Linked DNA regions of Homo sapiens: regions 1, 3, 4 and 5 are each reported to be linked to region 2. Evidence: microRNA targets listed by miRTarBase, many of them from high-throughput screens and not tested one by one. Region 2 holds a microRNA gene; each other region holds the end of a gene's coding sequence.
What was found. Region 2 holds the annotated microRNA hsa-miR-3938 (AAUUCCCUUGUAGAUAACCCGG, at 1,465-1,486, opposite strand). A microRNA usually pairs through its seed, bases 2 to 8, with sites in the 3' UTR of a target mRNA and lowers its output. Matches are read on the target gene's strand: a 7mer-m8 pairs with bases 2 to 8, a 7mer-A1 pairs with bases 2 to 7 and ends in A, and an 8mer does both.

Region 1: miRTarBase lists ZBTB22 as a target of hsa-miR-3938. Seed matches in the 3' UTR shown: 8mer at 226-233.
Region 3: miRTarBase lists TOMM22 as a target of hsa-miR-3938. Seed matches in the 3' UTR shown: 8mer at 1,733-1,740 and 7mer-A1 at 1,708-1,714.
Region 4: the mRNA of CEP78 is a reported target of hsa-miR-3938. Seed matches in the 3' UTR shown: 7mer-m8 at 2,534-2,540 and 7mer-m8 at 562-568.
Region 5: miRTarBase lists ZNF793 as a target of hsa-miR-3938. Seed matches in the 3' UTR shown: 7mer-m8 at 387-393 and 7mer-m8 at 703-709.

What each region holds. Positions count from the first base shown.
Region 1 is chr6:33,312,201-33,315,200 of GRCh38, reverse strand. ZBTB22 (zinc finger and BTB domain containing 22) reads left to right here. Exons shown (of 2, transcript NM_005453.5): 2 at 1-783. The coding sequence ends at 189. TAPBP (TAP binding protein) reads left to right here and starts at 1,123. Exons shown (of 8, transcript NM_003190.5): 1 at 1,123-1,196; 2 at 1,337-1,507; 3 at 1,724-1,984. The coding sequence starts at 1,160. RefSeq lists an enhancer at 1-569.
Region 2 is chr3:55,851,051-55,854,201 of GRCh38, forward strand. MIR3938 (microRNA 3938) reads right to left here and starts at 1,544; the gene lies at 1,442-1,544. All of the region lies in intron 14 of ERC2 (ELKS/RAB6-interacting/CAST family member 2), which reads right to left.
Region 3 is chr22:38,683,495-38,686,494 of GRCh38, reverse strand. It overlaps TOMM22 (translocase of outer mitochondrial membrane 22), which reads right to left. Exons shown (of 4, transcript NM_020243.5): 4 at 1,074-2,728. The coding sequence ends at 2,654. JOSD1 (Josephin domain containing 1) reads left to right here. Exons shown (of 5, transcript NM_001360236.2): 5 at 1-952. Among named protein-coding and RNA genes, the nearest start is that of TOMM22, 3.0 kb to the right of the region's middle.
Region 4 is chr9:78,270,631-78,273,630 of GRCh38, reverse strand. CEP78 (centrosomal protein 78) reads right to left here. Exons shown (of 17, transcript NM_001330691.3): 17 at 1-2,790. The coding sequence ends at 2,780. Among named protein-coding and RNA genes, the nearest start is that of PSAT1, 25 kb to the left of the region's middle.
Region 5 is chr19:37,537,520-37,540,519 of GRCh38, forward strand. It overlaps ZNF793 (zinc finger protein 793), which reads left to right. Exons shown (of 8, transcript NM_001013659.3): 8 at 1-3,000. The coding sequence ends at 360. All of the region lies in intron 1 of LOC124904708, which reads right to left. Among named protein-coding and RNA genes, the nearest start is that of ZNF571-AS1, 9.9 kb to the right of the region's middle.

The DNA of each region.
Region 1 (3,000 bases), not on the chromosome of region 2:
GGGGCCGTACCTGGGCCTGGGACTCCCACGGGGCCATCCTTGCCGTCCAAGAGAGAGTCTCCCGGAGTGGGCGGGGGCAGCGGCGACGAAGCGAGTGCGGCCACGCCCCCGTCCAGCAGACGTGTCTGGTCCCCACCCAGAGTCCACAAGGTGGAGATGGGCTTCGGTGGAGGTGGAGGAGCAAACTGAAGGGGCAGGCTACTGGGGTGGGGTAGCTTTCGGGAAAGGGAATAAGGAGCACGATGCAAGGGCGCTGTGGCCCCCGGGTGATCTCCCACCACACTTACTGTCTTCCTTTATCTCTGTGGACTTGTATATATTCTGGAAGGGGAACCACAGTTTCACCATCGCCCGCCCATTCTACTACTCAACCCCTCCCCCCCAAGGTATTTCCAGAACTAAACCCTTCCTTTCCCTCTGATGGGTACACTGAAGCCCCTGCTCCACAGAGTAGATTGCACATGGAGGGAGGGAGAGGGGGCGTGTTGAACATCCTGCAGTCACAGGGTCAGGGGTCAGGTGGTTGTAGTCTGTGCCTGAAGTCTGTGTTTGTGTTGTCGTGGAGACAAGGCCTTTGAGCCCCACCCTTGTCCTAGAACCTACCCCCTCTCAAGGATGCGCTCTTTATTTCTACCCTGTCTCTCCCCGCCACCCCCGACTTCCCGTGGAAATTCCCAACTCGGTTCTCATGGAGGAGTGGGTGGAGACAAGGAGGGAGTAAGTCGTAGGAGTACAAGGTTTTTATTTTTTTTAACAGTGATTAAAATATTTATTGGTCATTTACTTGGCTTCCCGATAACCCGTGTGTTTGCTGGGGACGCGGCACAGATAGGGGGAAGCCGGAGTAATGGTTTTCGGGCAAGTGGATGTTGGAGAGCACACACAGGAGTTGGGGGGCGGGGGAGGGCCTGGGGTTGGGGAGGGCTCGAACTCGGGGCTGCTGGGTAGTCCAGGAGGGCGCGGTAAGGCTGGGGTGTCCTGGTGAGAACTGGAGAGGATCTACCCGGGTCCCTGCCTGGCCAGTGGGGAAACACCGGTCCCCCAGGCACCTTCACCTAACCAGAGCGGGGATTTCCACCGCCCCTCATGCCGCCCTTTGGAGGAAAGTGAAAGTGAAAGGAGGAAGAGGAGGCTTCATGGCTGAGGAGGTCGCAGCGCCATGAAGTCCCTGTCTCTGCTCCTCGCTGTGGCTTTGGGTGAGCGAACCCCGCGACTCATCGCCCAAGAACTAGAGGGAAGCGGAGGGAGGTGGCCCCACTGGAGCCGATGCCAGGGTGGGAGTGGGGCAGGTCACCAGACATACAAACCGCTCCTCACTCGCGTCCCTATACGCCAGGCCTGGCGACCGCCGTCTCAGCAGGACCCGCGGTGATCGAGTGTTGGTTCGTGGAGGATGCGAGCGGAAAGGGCCTGGCCAAGAGACCCGGTGCACTGCTGTTGCGCCAGGGACCGGGGGAACCGCCGCCCCGGCCGGACCTCGACCCTGAGCTCTATCTCAGTGTACACGGTGAGTCTCTAGGGACTCGCCGCCCCCCTACCTCTGTCGCCTCCACCGAAACCCCCTCCTCTTTAGATCCGGCAGTGACCTCAGGCCTCAGCTTCCCCTTTGTAAAGTGAGTCTCACTACGGGGTAGTCTGTGCATTTGAAGTTCCCCGAACGCTGCCCTTCCAGCCCCTTTCCCGGCGGTGACTCTACAGCTGCAACTTCCTTCTCTACACTCAGACCCCGCGGGCGCCCTCCAGGCTGCCTTCAGGCGGTATCCCCGGGGCGCCCCCGCACCACACTGCGAGATGAGCCGCTTCGTGCCTCTCCCCGCCTCTGCGAAATGGGCCAGCGGCCTGACCCCCGCGCAGAACTGCCCGCGGGCCCTGGATGGGGCTTGGCTGATGGTCAGCATATCCAGCCCAGTCCTCAGCCTCTCCAGCCTCTTGCGACCACAGCCAGAGCCTCAGCAGGAGCCTGTTCTCATCACCATGGCAACAGGTAGCTGGGGAGGGGAGGTGGAGAAGGGTGGGTAGATTCTAAGGGTCCAGATCAGCCGGTGGTCTCGCTTTATGGACTTGAGCAAGACATTTCGCCAATCGGGGTTCAGTTTCCTTTTTTTGTTAAGAGAGGTGGTTTGGCTAGAATGAATCAATCTCTACCGCTCCTTCTAGCCCTCACCCAGTTAAAAAAAAAAAACAAAAAAAAAACTGCAGCTTGGCAGGGGGTAGGGGGAAAGCAGGGCCGGGCAGGGGGGTTACTTTCTGGTGTTTCGAAGGGCGGGGCTTTGAAGAGGTGGGGTTTCCCGACACCAGACCTTGAGAGACTTGTCAGGTGATGCGAGGTGGGAGGGGTTCAGAAGCAGGAGCGTTTTTTCTCTGCTCTTCCCAGATCTGTGTCTTGCTCTGCACCCTCAGCTTTGCGGGTCACTCTTTCAAAACCCAGCACTCTATCCCCACCTGCGCCCACACCCGGCGCTGCGGCAATCCGCAAAGCAAAGGCTCTTGCACTCTAGCGCGTTGACCTTGCCTGACAGCCCCGTGTAGGGATGTGCTGCCGCTCTGTGGTCCGCAAACAGGTGGGCTCGAGTGGGCGGATGGACGCGGCTGGAGATTGGATAGCTCCTATTGCACTGAAAGGTGCATTGCAGTTTGAGGCCCAGGAGTCAGAAGCTTTTCTAGGCTGGGACGTGGGAGGGACTGTGCAGATAATTCAAGAATGAGGAGAGTCTGACCTGGATATCTGGGAGCTCTCCCTCCTGGCAGCGGAGGCGGGGTATTCCGGGGTAGAATACCGGTAGAGTTCTTAGCTTTTCTATCTGGATTTTATGTCAGCGACACAGCCCGATGGACAGGGCAACCCCAACCAATCCCTGCACCCTCCCTTCCCTCCACCCTCCTGAGAATTACCCACAGAACCAGGGAGACAGACTTGAAACCCACGCTGAAACCCTCACCTCTGCCTATACCTCCATTCTTAGTCTCAAGCCCCCACCCTGGCAGAAGCTGAGGAACACT
Region 2 (3,151 bases):
TCAAAATCCAGACCCCATCAGATGTTGTTTGAAATTCAGAGACTGCAGAGACTGCTGGCACATTCTTGGAAAAGCTCTGACCTTGGGAAGAAAACTTACTTCCATCTCTAAGAAAAAATACTAGATAATGATTTTTTTAAGCCCATGCTGGGAGTTGGTGGCAGGATGAGAATGCACATGGTAACAGGACAACAGTGGGTACTGGCCTGGAGCAGGCTCCTACGTGGCCTCCCCAGAGTCCAGGCTTTATTCTCAGCATTCTCTATGGTCCAGCCTCTCTCCACTTAAACTACACTTCAGATAATGGTGTTTGCTACAACTCTTTACAATCAATTATTTTGTCATTGTCTTTATTTAAACATGTACACACACACACAACTAGAGGGAATGCACTGGAGAATGACACACAACGCATTCCAAGGAAATAACAAAATTTTTTCTGGCTTGCGTGCCCAACCCACAAACTTGAAGATCACCAGGGCTTTATTTAGTTTGGTTCCCATTATCATTATGTGAGGCATGTTAATAACTGGACTCCAGAGCTTTGGTTTTAGATACTTGTTCCTCACCTCTCTCATCTAGAGTTTTAAAAAATAGTTTTTATTATAAATACATATTTTTTGCTTTTCCTGCCCACCTAACTTTTAAAAAATCCAAAAATCCCATCTACTCTCATTAGAGTTGACCACAACAAAACTGCATGAGAAAAAAAAAAAAAGAATCCTTTGGATCACATGGGTGTCACACCATTGTTGGCCATGGGAGCTCAGCCTAATAAGGAGAAGATATGACAACAGAGAGAGCCCAGGGTCTTGGGCCCTTTGCACAGAACATGGTGTCCTTACTGGCAGTTTGTTTTAGGCTTAACATATTAATTTATTGCTAAAACAGGCCGGGTACAGCGGCTCACGCCTGTTACCCCAGCACTTTGGGAGGCCAGGCGGGTGGATCACTTGAGGTCAGGAGTTTGAGACCAGCCTGACCAACATGGTGAAACCTCATCTCTACTAAAAATACAAAATTAGCTGGCGTGGTGGCGCATTCTTCTAATCCCAGCTACTCAGGAGGCTGAGGCAGGAGAATTGCTTGTACCCGGGAGGCGGAGGTGGCAGTGAACTGAGATCGCACCACTACACTCCAGCCTGGGTGACAGGGTGAGTCTCTGTCTCGAAAACAAAACAAAACAAAAAAACTGATGTAGTAAAATGTGCTTTACAGTAATTACACCACAAGAATAAACTACTAGCTTAGAATTATTTGTTGTATTTCACTAATGCCAAAGACATAGATTTTTATATGTAATACAAATCCCTTATTTTATAGGTAAGATAAATATGGCCCAGAGGGATAATCAGAACTACCAAATGTCACATAGCCACTTAGTAACAGAAGAGGCACAACAGCAAGTTCTCCTAGTTACAGCTCTACACCTCATGACCTCCATGGAGCCATCCAACCTGACCACCGGGTTATCTACAAGGGAATTTTTTAAATTAAAAAAAAATTCCCTTGTAGATAATCTAGTGATCGGGTTAAAAATTCCTTTAAAAAAATCTTGCAGCAGAATTAATGAGGGTAAAGGTACATGGATTCTTTTCTTTTGACTCCTTCCATTTTTATACCTGAAGTTACTCCATGAGAGGAGGAACTCAGTCTGCATTTACTCATAACTGAACTCTCAACATTTAAGACATTTCACTAAATTAGTAATAAATTGATGGCAGCATAGAAATTTGTTTCAAAATTACTCAATAAAAATACATACTGCATTTTTCTCCAGATATTCCCCCCTAAATTATTGGCATAGTCATTAGCCCTTTATAGGAGTTTTTGAATTTGGCACCTTGACATTTGGATGGGCTAATACTCTGTTGCAGGAGGCTGTCCTGTGCACTACAGAATGTTTAGTAGCATCGCTGGCCTCTGCCCTATACATGCCAGTAGCATACCTTCTGGTTCCTCCCCATCCCACTGTCCAGTTTTAACAACGAAAAATGTCTCCAGTTGTCAAATATTCCTGGGTCAGGGTTGGGGTGGGTTGTGGAGCACAATCGCCCCTGGTTGAGAACTCCTGATCTAAGGTGACAGCATATCCACCCACCCTCGACCGTCCAACCATGTGATTCATGGGACATGGAAGCTTGATGAATCAACCAACTGAAAATTAAAAGATACACATAGAAAGCACTCAGGAGGCTGGGTGTGGTGGCTCATGCCTGTAATCCCAACACTTTGAGAGGCTGAGGTGGGAAGAACACTTGAGCTCAGGACTTCAAGACCCACCTGGGTAATATAGTGAGACCCTGTCTCTACAAAACATTAAAAATTAACCAGGCATAGTGGTAGCATCTACAATCCCAGCTACTTGGGAGGCTGAGAGGGGAGGATGACTTGAGCCCAGGAGGTTGAGGCTGCCATGAGTGTCATGATTGTGCCACTGCACTCCAGCCTGGGAGACAGAGTGAGACCCTGTCTCAAATAAACAAAGAAAAAAAAAGAAAGCACTAGCACTCAGGAAATATAAGTATGAATTGAATTAGATATACTCTAATCTGCTTATTTCAAACATCATCACTTTTGAAGACATTATGCTAAGTGAAATAAGCTGGTCACAAAAGGTCAAATATTGTATGATTCCACTTACTTGAAATACTTAGAGGAGTCAAATTCACAGACAAAGTATAATGTCGGCTGCCAGGGGCCAGGGAGAGGAGGAACGTGCAGTTATTATAGAATGAGTGCAGAGTTTCAGTTTGGGAACATGAAAAGAATTACAGAAGTGGGTGGTGGTGATGGCTGCACAACAATGTGAATGTACTTAACACTACTAAGCTGGACACTTGAAAACAGTGAAAATGATAAATTTTATGTTACATGCTTTGACCACAAGGCCTAAATTAGACCAAATTATCACAAGGCCTAATTCCACAAAGCACGAAGCAGGCCCAGCGCGGCGGCTCACACCTGTAATCCCAGCACTTTGGGAGACCGAGGAGGGCCGATCACCTGAGGTAAGGAGTTTGAAACCAGTCTGGCCAATATGGTAAAAACCCGTCGCTACTAAAAATACAAAAATTAGCTGGGCATGGTGGCAGGCGCCTGTAGTCCCAGCTACTTGGGAAGCTGAGGCACGAGAATCGCTTGAATCCGG
Region 3 (3,000 bases), not on the chromosome of region 2:
ATGCGTGTCTCCAAAGTGGATGTGGTTGCCTCAAGGCAGGTGGCAGGCAGGGGTGACCTGCTGGCCCTCAGATCAATGGTCGTGGCAGGTCTGAGAGCTGTCCCACTGGCCAGACTTCTCTCCAGCAGCAAAGCCAGCCTGGGGCTTGCATGTTGATCCTGAGCAAGCTTAACGGGGTGAAGCTGGGCTTTCTCCCCCCTGTGACTGGAGTGCATGTTGACACCAGCACTTTTTCTGCACATGTATCTTCAATCCAACAAGGCCGTTTTTTTAATGCTGAGTAACAGGCCACCAAGCGGCTACTGCGTTATATCTTCTCAGCAACTGGCCGCAGTCTCTTCTGCACCATTTTCTACACCAGACCTGCTTGGCACCACAGGGAGCTCTTTTCCTGCCCTGCACAATGACATTCCAACCACCACCAGCCAGACATTACAGCCAACCTTGCTGATTGTCACAAGCAGGACCTTGGGGCCACTGGCACTGTCAGATAGTAAGCCATTTCTTGGGTAGAGGAGGAAACTCCTCTCCACAAATCCACTTGGGCCTGTGCAAATGGCACTTGAAAGAGTCCCCATGCACTTGGAGTCCATGAGCCAATGGGATATGCAAAGACGCTTAAACATTTCAGGGCTGGTTTCTCTGTTCATATCCAATTCTGGTGCTTAGGAACAGGGACCCATGCTGATGCCCAAGGGCAAAAAGCCCCACTTCCTTTAAGGAAGTGAACAGGCCTGACCCTGATGCCCAATAACGGGCAACCCTAGGCTTTTTGTTTTTCTTGCTTTTATTCCTTTTTGTTGTTGGCCTTGTGCTGCGTTTGTTTACAAAAGATGTATTTTGTTTAACCAAATATTAAAAATGGAAAACTCCATATATGTCTCCTTGTCTGCCTGAATTCTATAATTGTGTAAAGAAAAATAAACTTTAGTATGACGCTGTTTTAAAAGGAGTTCATTGCCAGCGTAAGTCATCTTTTAGAGACATATCATTCTTTGATTAACTCTTTCACCTGAGAAATCCAGACAAAATAGTCACTGAAATGGGATTTGGTTCAAAAGATGTCTCTAAGACATTTTTCAGTCTATTTTAATTTATAAAAACTAATCTTGACAATTTGAAGAATCCACCTAAGTACAAGTTTGTACCACACTGGTGACTAGTGTTTTTCCCTAGTTAACAAGTGAAAGATCATGTATACCCAGCGGGCCTGGGCCCAGCCCCACCATCCCGAGCGCACAGCAGCAGTGTTCTGTAGCTGGACTGCCTGGATTTGAATCCAGGTCTAGCACTTAACTCTGCAGCCTTGAGCAATTACCTTTCTGTGGCTGTTTCCTCTTCTGTAAAATGGGAACAGTACCACCTAGATTGTAGTGTTGGTTGATCTGATAAACACACAAAAGGCTTACTCTGGCTGGGCGTGGTGGGTGACGCCTATAATCCCAGCACTTTGAGGGGCCAGAGGCGGGTGGATGGCTAGAACTCAGGAGTTCAAGACTATCTGGGGCAACAAGGCGAAACCCTGACTCTACCAAAAATAAAAGAAACTAGCTGGGCACGGTGGCGTGTACCTGTAGTCTTAGCTACCCAGGAGGCCAAGTTGGAGGGGAGGTAAGAGGTTGCAGTGAACCCAAACGACACCACTGTACTCCAGTGAGACCTGATCTCAGGCAAAAAAAAAAAAAAAAAAATTCTGTCCCCCTCCCCTATTCCCCAGAAATCAGTACTATGTTATTCCCTACAAATACTTTATAATTACACAGTGTCATTATAGACTAAAGAAGTACATAGACCCAATCCTTTGTTTTAGGCTGATGGATCTCAAAGTGACTGCCTAAATTCAGGGCAAAGATTGCTATGAAGTACTTGGCTAAAAATGAATTTTCACTTGGAAACAATTTGGGCCTATGGCTGTTAAGATGGAGGTGCTGCTGGTTTAGGTGAGAAAATGTGAGGGGCAGTACATGTCTCTGACGTGGTCTCATTTCAAGGTACTTAGGATGACACTTTCAGTTGGAATCATTTTTAATATTTAAATACAAAAAGTGAGCACTGACTTCTCTTTTTTTAAACACACACACAGGTCTAACAGCCAAAATGTGCAGAGGAAATGAGCTCCTGCTGTCTTCCATAGTCCCCATTCTGTGGCTGAAGCTGCAGCCTGCCTCCCTCCTCTCATACATAGGGATTCATAGTGGCCACTTTACACTACAGGTGTAATGCATTTTGTCTGTTTCACATTGTGTGCATGTCCTGCCCCAACAACTCCATTCTTTAAAAAAAAAAAAAAAAAACAGTCGTTAATGGTCAGGGGCACATCCCTCCCACTGGCATCGGTTCCTACCCCACAAGGGGAAAGTGAGATCTTCCAGTTAGGAGCAATTTGGTGAAAGGAGTCGGGTGACCAGAGCTGGAATAACCATCTGCATGGCTGCACTCTGGTATCAGAGTGGAGACAGAAGTAAGGATAGTGTGGAGGGCACAGTTGCAAGTTGAGTCTTTCCATGAGACAATGTGGGGATAATTCTCCCCACCAGGTTTAGATAGATCAATGTGCCAAAGTTAAAAAAAAAAAAAAATCCAAATTATCAGCAGTTCAAACACTTGAATTTCAAACTTATCCCACTGAGACAGCTCAAACAGCAATAACAATCTAGATCTTTCCAGGAAGTGAGGGTAGAGCCCCTGGCATTCCTCCTGAGAGCCCTGTGTTAGGTCCTAGAAGTATCTGGAAAAGAAAAGGAGGGGTGTAAGGCATCATACAGGCCTAGAGAGCTTATTCTCACCATACCTGATGGGGCCAACGTCTACAAAAATAATACTGAAAGCACAGTCAGACAACTAAAAGAGCATGGGCCCGATCCCAATCCCCACCCACACATTAACTGTTGGTCAACTCAGGTGCTACAACAGGAGCCCTCAACCCCTGGGCTGTGGACTGGCACTGGCCCATGGCCTGTTAGGAGCTGAGCCACACAGCAGTAGATCAGCAGCAGGCAA
Region 4 (3,000 bases), not on the chromosome of region 2:
GGATTACAGGCATGCGCCATGACACCCAGCTAATTTTTTTTTTTTTTTTTTGTATTTTTAGTAGAGACGGAGTTTTGCCATGTTGGCCAGGCTGGTCTTGAACTTCTGACCTCAGGTGATCCACCCACCTCGGCCTCCCAAAGTGCTAGGATTACAGGCGTGAGCCGCTGCGCCCGGCCTAACATCAAGTTTTTAAATTGCAGATATATTTTTTTAAAAAATCTTCTGCAACACTGTACTTATCAGCCAAAAGAAGCTTTTGTCCCCTTTACCAATTTTCACCTTGGGTTCTATTTAGTCTGCAGCTAACACAGCCACATTTACTCTTTAGCATCTGCCTGGTATATTTTTGTTCATCTCTTTATAATCTATGACAGCGTTTTAGATTTTGCAAATAGCACACAGTGGGATTTCATGTTTTTACTCAAGCCTAAGGATTCCAGAATTTAACCTGTTCATGTTTATTATGAGTAAAAAACTTGATCTTGCTATATTGTGGATTTTTTATTTCTATGTAGCTTGTTTCTTTTTCTTTCCCGTCTTGTTGGACCTAAAAATTCCATTCCCTCTTTCCAGGTAGTTTTGTAGCTATTAAAGTTGTTGACATACATTTGCTTCCCTCTCTTCTCATGGCAAATGGCAATTCTGCACTTCCCTGGTCTGCTGAACTCAGGCATAACCATGTGACTTTCTTTGGCCAAAGAAATGTGAACAGAAGTGACATATGTCACATCTAGACAGAAGCTTTAAGTCACAATATATGCTGCATCATACTGTCTTTCCTTGGACACTGCAACCAGCAATGTTCCAAATAGTGACGTTCCACCAGCCTCGCTTCCAGATTGAGGTTGATGTTGAATAGGGGCCTCTAGCCAATCTGCCAAAGGCAAACTGCATGGGCACAAATAAACCTATGTTGTTGAAAGTAATTAAAATTTGGGAGCTGTTAATGCAACATCACCTAACCTATCCTTACTAACATACCCTTAACTTTATATATATTTTAATATATTTTTTCAATCAATACCTAGAATCAAACACTACCTGTATCCTTCCCATGAATAAGACAATATCTAGGACAAGCTTTCACTTTCTGTGTCCTGCCATGCCTCCATTCATGTTCAAACCTAGAACTTTGGTTGGACTTTGTTTTCATATGTCATTAGTATTTATTTAGACTTTTTCTGACTACAGGCACCTCTGGTGATTATAAAAGGGGATTTGCAGGTCACAAAGCTGAAGTAGTTTGTCTCATATCTTTATCAATATCTTTATCAGTTTATTTGATCTAAACATCTTTCATGGGGCTGGGCACAGTGGCTCAGGTCTGTAGTCTCAGCACTTTGGGAGGCCAAGGTGGGAGGATCATTTGAGGCCAGGAGTTCAAGACCAGCCTAAGAAAGAACCCATCTTGGCCGGATGCAGTGGCTCATGCCTGTAATCCCAGCACTTTGGGAGGCCGAGGTGGGTGAATCACCTGAGGTTAGGAGTTCGAGACCAGCCTGGCCAACATGGTGAAACCCCGTCTTTACTAAAAATACAAAAATTAGCCAGGCATGGTGGTGTGTGCCTGTAATCCCAGTTACTAGGGGGGCTGAGGCAGGAAGATCACTTCACGGTTGCAGTGAGCTGAGATCGAGGAGGTTGCAGTGAGCTGAGATTGTACCACTGCACTCCAGCCTGGGCAATAGAGCGAGACTCCGTCTCAAAAAAAAAAGAAAAAAAGAAAAAAAGAAAAGAAAGAAAGAACCCAACTCTACAATAATTTTTTAAAACTTCGGCATGGTGGTACATTGCAGCTACTTGGGAGGCTGAGGTGGGAAGATAATTTAAGCCCAATGGTTCATGGTTACAATAAGCTGTGATCCCATCACTACACCCCAGCCTGGGTGACATGAGTGAGACCTTGACTCAAAAAAAAAAAACCCAAAAAACAAAACCACACGTTAATGGGTTCATTGTTCATTTTGCTTAGTTACTCTGAGAAAGATTTTTTCTAAGTAATTAAGTTGCTGATGAAACGTCTAAGACCAATTAATACCTTCCATTTCATGAATTTAAGCTTCAAATGAATCCATTCTGCTGTGTAGTCCATCTTCTGAGTGTTTCAGTTTCATAATCAAATTTTTAATTTCCAGAAACTCTAAATATTTTTTTCATGGCATCCTATTCTTTATGAACACAGTATCTTTATGAATTGCTGAAGATTTTGATTCATTAATTTAAAAATTTCATGTTTCTCCTAGTAACTATCTTCTTGAACAGGTTAATTTTAATTTCATGCCTCCTTTTATGTTACTGGTTTTCTTCAAATTTGATGATTCTTGGTTGTCCATATTTATAAATGAGGGCCTAAGATTAAAGTTGGAAGTGTTATTTTTTCATCCAAATGGGAATTCTGGTTCACTTTTAATGAACACAAATGATTACAGGCACTTATATGGTGATTATAAACGGAAGTGGCAGGTCATCATAGTTAGAGAGATCATGTGGGCAGCTTAACTTCAGTTCCTCTTCGGAGCCATTTTGGATAATTCCCTTATTCTCCGATCCCAGCATTTCTTGGGTCAGAGCTCCCACTTCAGATAGCTGCTTTCTTAGCCTGGTGGCAAACTCCAGAATCAGATGCTCCAAAGATGAGTGGAATGGCTTAGCTGTTCCATCCTTTAATTAACTGGTACTTAAATCATCTGCTTCTTATCTTCCAGAAATTTCACTGTTCAAATTTCTGGTTTTCCAACTCTGCTATTATTTTTATTTTAATATTTCTCCAGTCATTTCAATGGGATTCTAGAAGCATAAAAGAATGTGTTCAGTCATCCATGTTAATGTTCCAGCATGTAGTTTATAATCAGAATTTTTCAAAAAACCAATCATCTCCTATCATGCCGATCCTCTGAAAATCAAGTGTTACTGTCTTGAGATTAGAGATTCTGTAAATACCCATTTGAAATTGGACGAACTCATTATTGGATATAGAACTGGATGGGCAAGCAAGAG
Region 5 (3,000 bases), not on the chromosome of region 2:
TGTGGGAAAGCCTTTACCCAGAAGTCACACCGCACAGAACATCAGAGAACACACACAGGAGAGAGACCCTTTGTCTGCAGTGAATGCGGGAAATCGTTTGGTGAGAAGTCATACCTCAATGTACATCGAAAAATGCACACAGGAGAAAGACCGTATCGTTGCAGAGAATGTGGAAAATCCTTCAGCCAGAAGTCATGCCTCAATAAACATTGGAGAACTCACACAGGAGAGAAGCCCTATGGGTGCAATGAATGTGGGAAAGCTTTCTACCAGAAGCCAAACCTCAGCAGACATCAGAAAATTCATGCTCGGAAGAATGCCTACAGGAATGAAAACTTAATAATTGTGGGAAATACTTGAGCAAAATATCTGGTTTCATGGTATGTAGGGAATTTTTTTTTTTTTTTTTTGAGTTGGAATCTCACTTTGTCACCCAGGCTGGAGTGCAGTGGCGCGATCTCGGCTTACTGCAAGCTCTGCCTCCCGGGTTCACGCCATTCTCCTGCCTCAGCCTCCCGAGTAGCTGGGACTACAGGTGCCCACCACCATGCCCGGCTAATTTTTTTTTTGTATTTTTAGTAGAGACGGGGTTTCACCGTGTTAGCCAGGATGGTCTCGATCTCCTGACCTTGTGATCTGCCCGCCTTGTCCTCCCAAAGTGCTGGGATTACAGGCGTGAGCCACCGCGCCTGGCCGGTATGTAGGGAATTTATCCTTAGGAGAAATCTTATCATTTTAATGAATTTGAACAGTGTGTTTTTATTTTATTTATTTATTTATTTTGAGTTGTATTCTCTGTTTCCCAGGCTGGAGTGCAATGGCACTATCTCGGCTCACTGTAACCTCAGCCTCCCAGGTTCAAGCAGTTCTCCTGCCTCAGCCTCCCAAGTAGCTGGGATTACAGGCACCTGCCACCACGCCTGGCTAATTTTTGTATTTTTAGTAGAGATGGGGTTTCACCATGTTGGTCAGGCTGGTCTCTTTGGCTAGGCTGGTCTCGAACTCCTGACCTCGTGATACCCCCCAACCCCCCGCCCTTGGCCTCCCAAAGTGTTGGGATTACAGGCATGAGCCAACGCGCCCAACCGACAGTGTTGTATCATAATGGAAATCATGATCTAATTGTGATACAAACTTTTCTAGAAAATACTTTCTCAAACATAAGCATGGACACCCTGGCATGTAAACGTTTAAAAATGTATTAAATGGAATAACAGCAGAATACAAAATATCTGTGAAGAGACTTAAAGGCATACTCTGGTATATTCCACAGTGAGCCATACAATCAGCATTATTTGTATTTTGGAGTTGTAAATGTGAAATTAACATAAAATGTGAATATCAGACACATGTCACACAACATATAGAATGCCATTCAGAAAACTTTTCCACTTTAAATATCATCATTGTCTTTTGATGTCTTAACAATACAAAAAAATAACAACAACATGGCCCACTATTGTTAAAAGAACTTTATTATACCAGCTACATTTTTCCACCTTTTTGTAATACATGTAAATGGCTATAGAGGTTGTTACTGTCCTCTGCAGAAATAATAAAGCAGTGTTTTTAAATGTATTTGGATAATTTGGCCAAAAATTTTACTAAAATGTAGTTATTTATATTAAAAATGCAAGCTAAGGAATAGTTTAAGAACCTGATACTGGGTAAATGAAACACTGTAAACTATTTGACAAAATGTAGTGTCACCCTGGTGTACAGTACACTGTTCATATTTTCTTAGTCTTGCTTAAAATATCTTGTAGCAAATTAGTAGCATTGCTACACTATTCTAGATACACTATTCTATATACAGGTTGTATAACTCAGAAATGTTTCATGCGTAGACCACTGAAGGAGAATTTCTTTTCTCTCTATCCCTCTGCAAATTAATTCAAGAATATTCATTTTTTTCATATAAATTTCCTTGCAAGTGTCCTAGACACTAAATCCCAAGGTTTTAATTATTTCAATGTTTGGAAAGAAGTCTGCTTCCCTGAGTTGCTATGTCATCCATATTAGAAAATAAATGGCCATGTGGAATCTACATTTTTCAAGATTTCCCTCCATGTAAGACTGCCTGATCCAGAATGAGAAAGGAGACATAACCACAGATATCAATATGATTTTTTAAGTGATAAAAAGATACCTCATACAACTCTAATCAACATATTTTTTAAAAAGAGGAGGTGGATGCTTTTCTAATAAACTTAAGTTATGAAAACTGCAATAAGAAGTAGAAAACTTGGTAGGATAGTTAACATTGAAAAACTCAAAAAAGCTATTAAAGATCTATAATGGGAAAATGCTCCAGGCTCAGAAGAGTTCATGCTTAGTTCTATCTTTTAAAGAAAGAGTAATACCAGTGTTATTTATTATATGGATGTAATACAATCCATGAACTGTACTCATTTATTTTATTAAGTCAGAATAAATTTTAACACCAAAATCAAATACAGATAGTTGAAAAAAGAAAACTTCTGCTGGGTGCGGTGGCTCACGCCTGTAATCCCAACACTTTGGGAGGCCGAGGCAGGTGGATCATGAGGTCAGAAGTTCGAGATGGTGAAACCCCATCTCTACTAAAAATACAAAAATTAGCCGGGTGTGGTGGCACACACCTGTAGTCCCAGCTACTTGGGAGGTTGAGGCATGAGGCAGGAGAATTGCTTGTACCCAGGAGGTAGAGGTTGCGGTGAGCCAAGATCGTGCCATCCAGCCTGGGTGACAAGAGCGAAACTCCGTCAAAAAAAAAAAAAAAAAAAGAAAACTTCAGACCAGTCTTACTCATGAATATAGAAACAAAAATTATAGTTAAAATACTAGCAAATAGAATTCAGCCATATACCCAAAGAGTGACATAGTAAGAGTCATCCCAAGAATGCCAAACCAGTTCAGTTAATAGGAAATGCATCAATCAAATTAACAGTTTAAAGGAGAAGAATCATATGAACTCTCAACAGATACTGAGAAGGCATTTCATAGAATGTGTTAATTTAC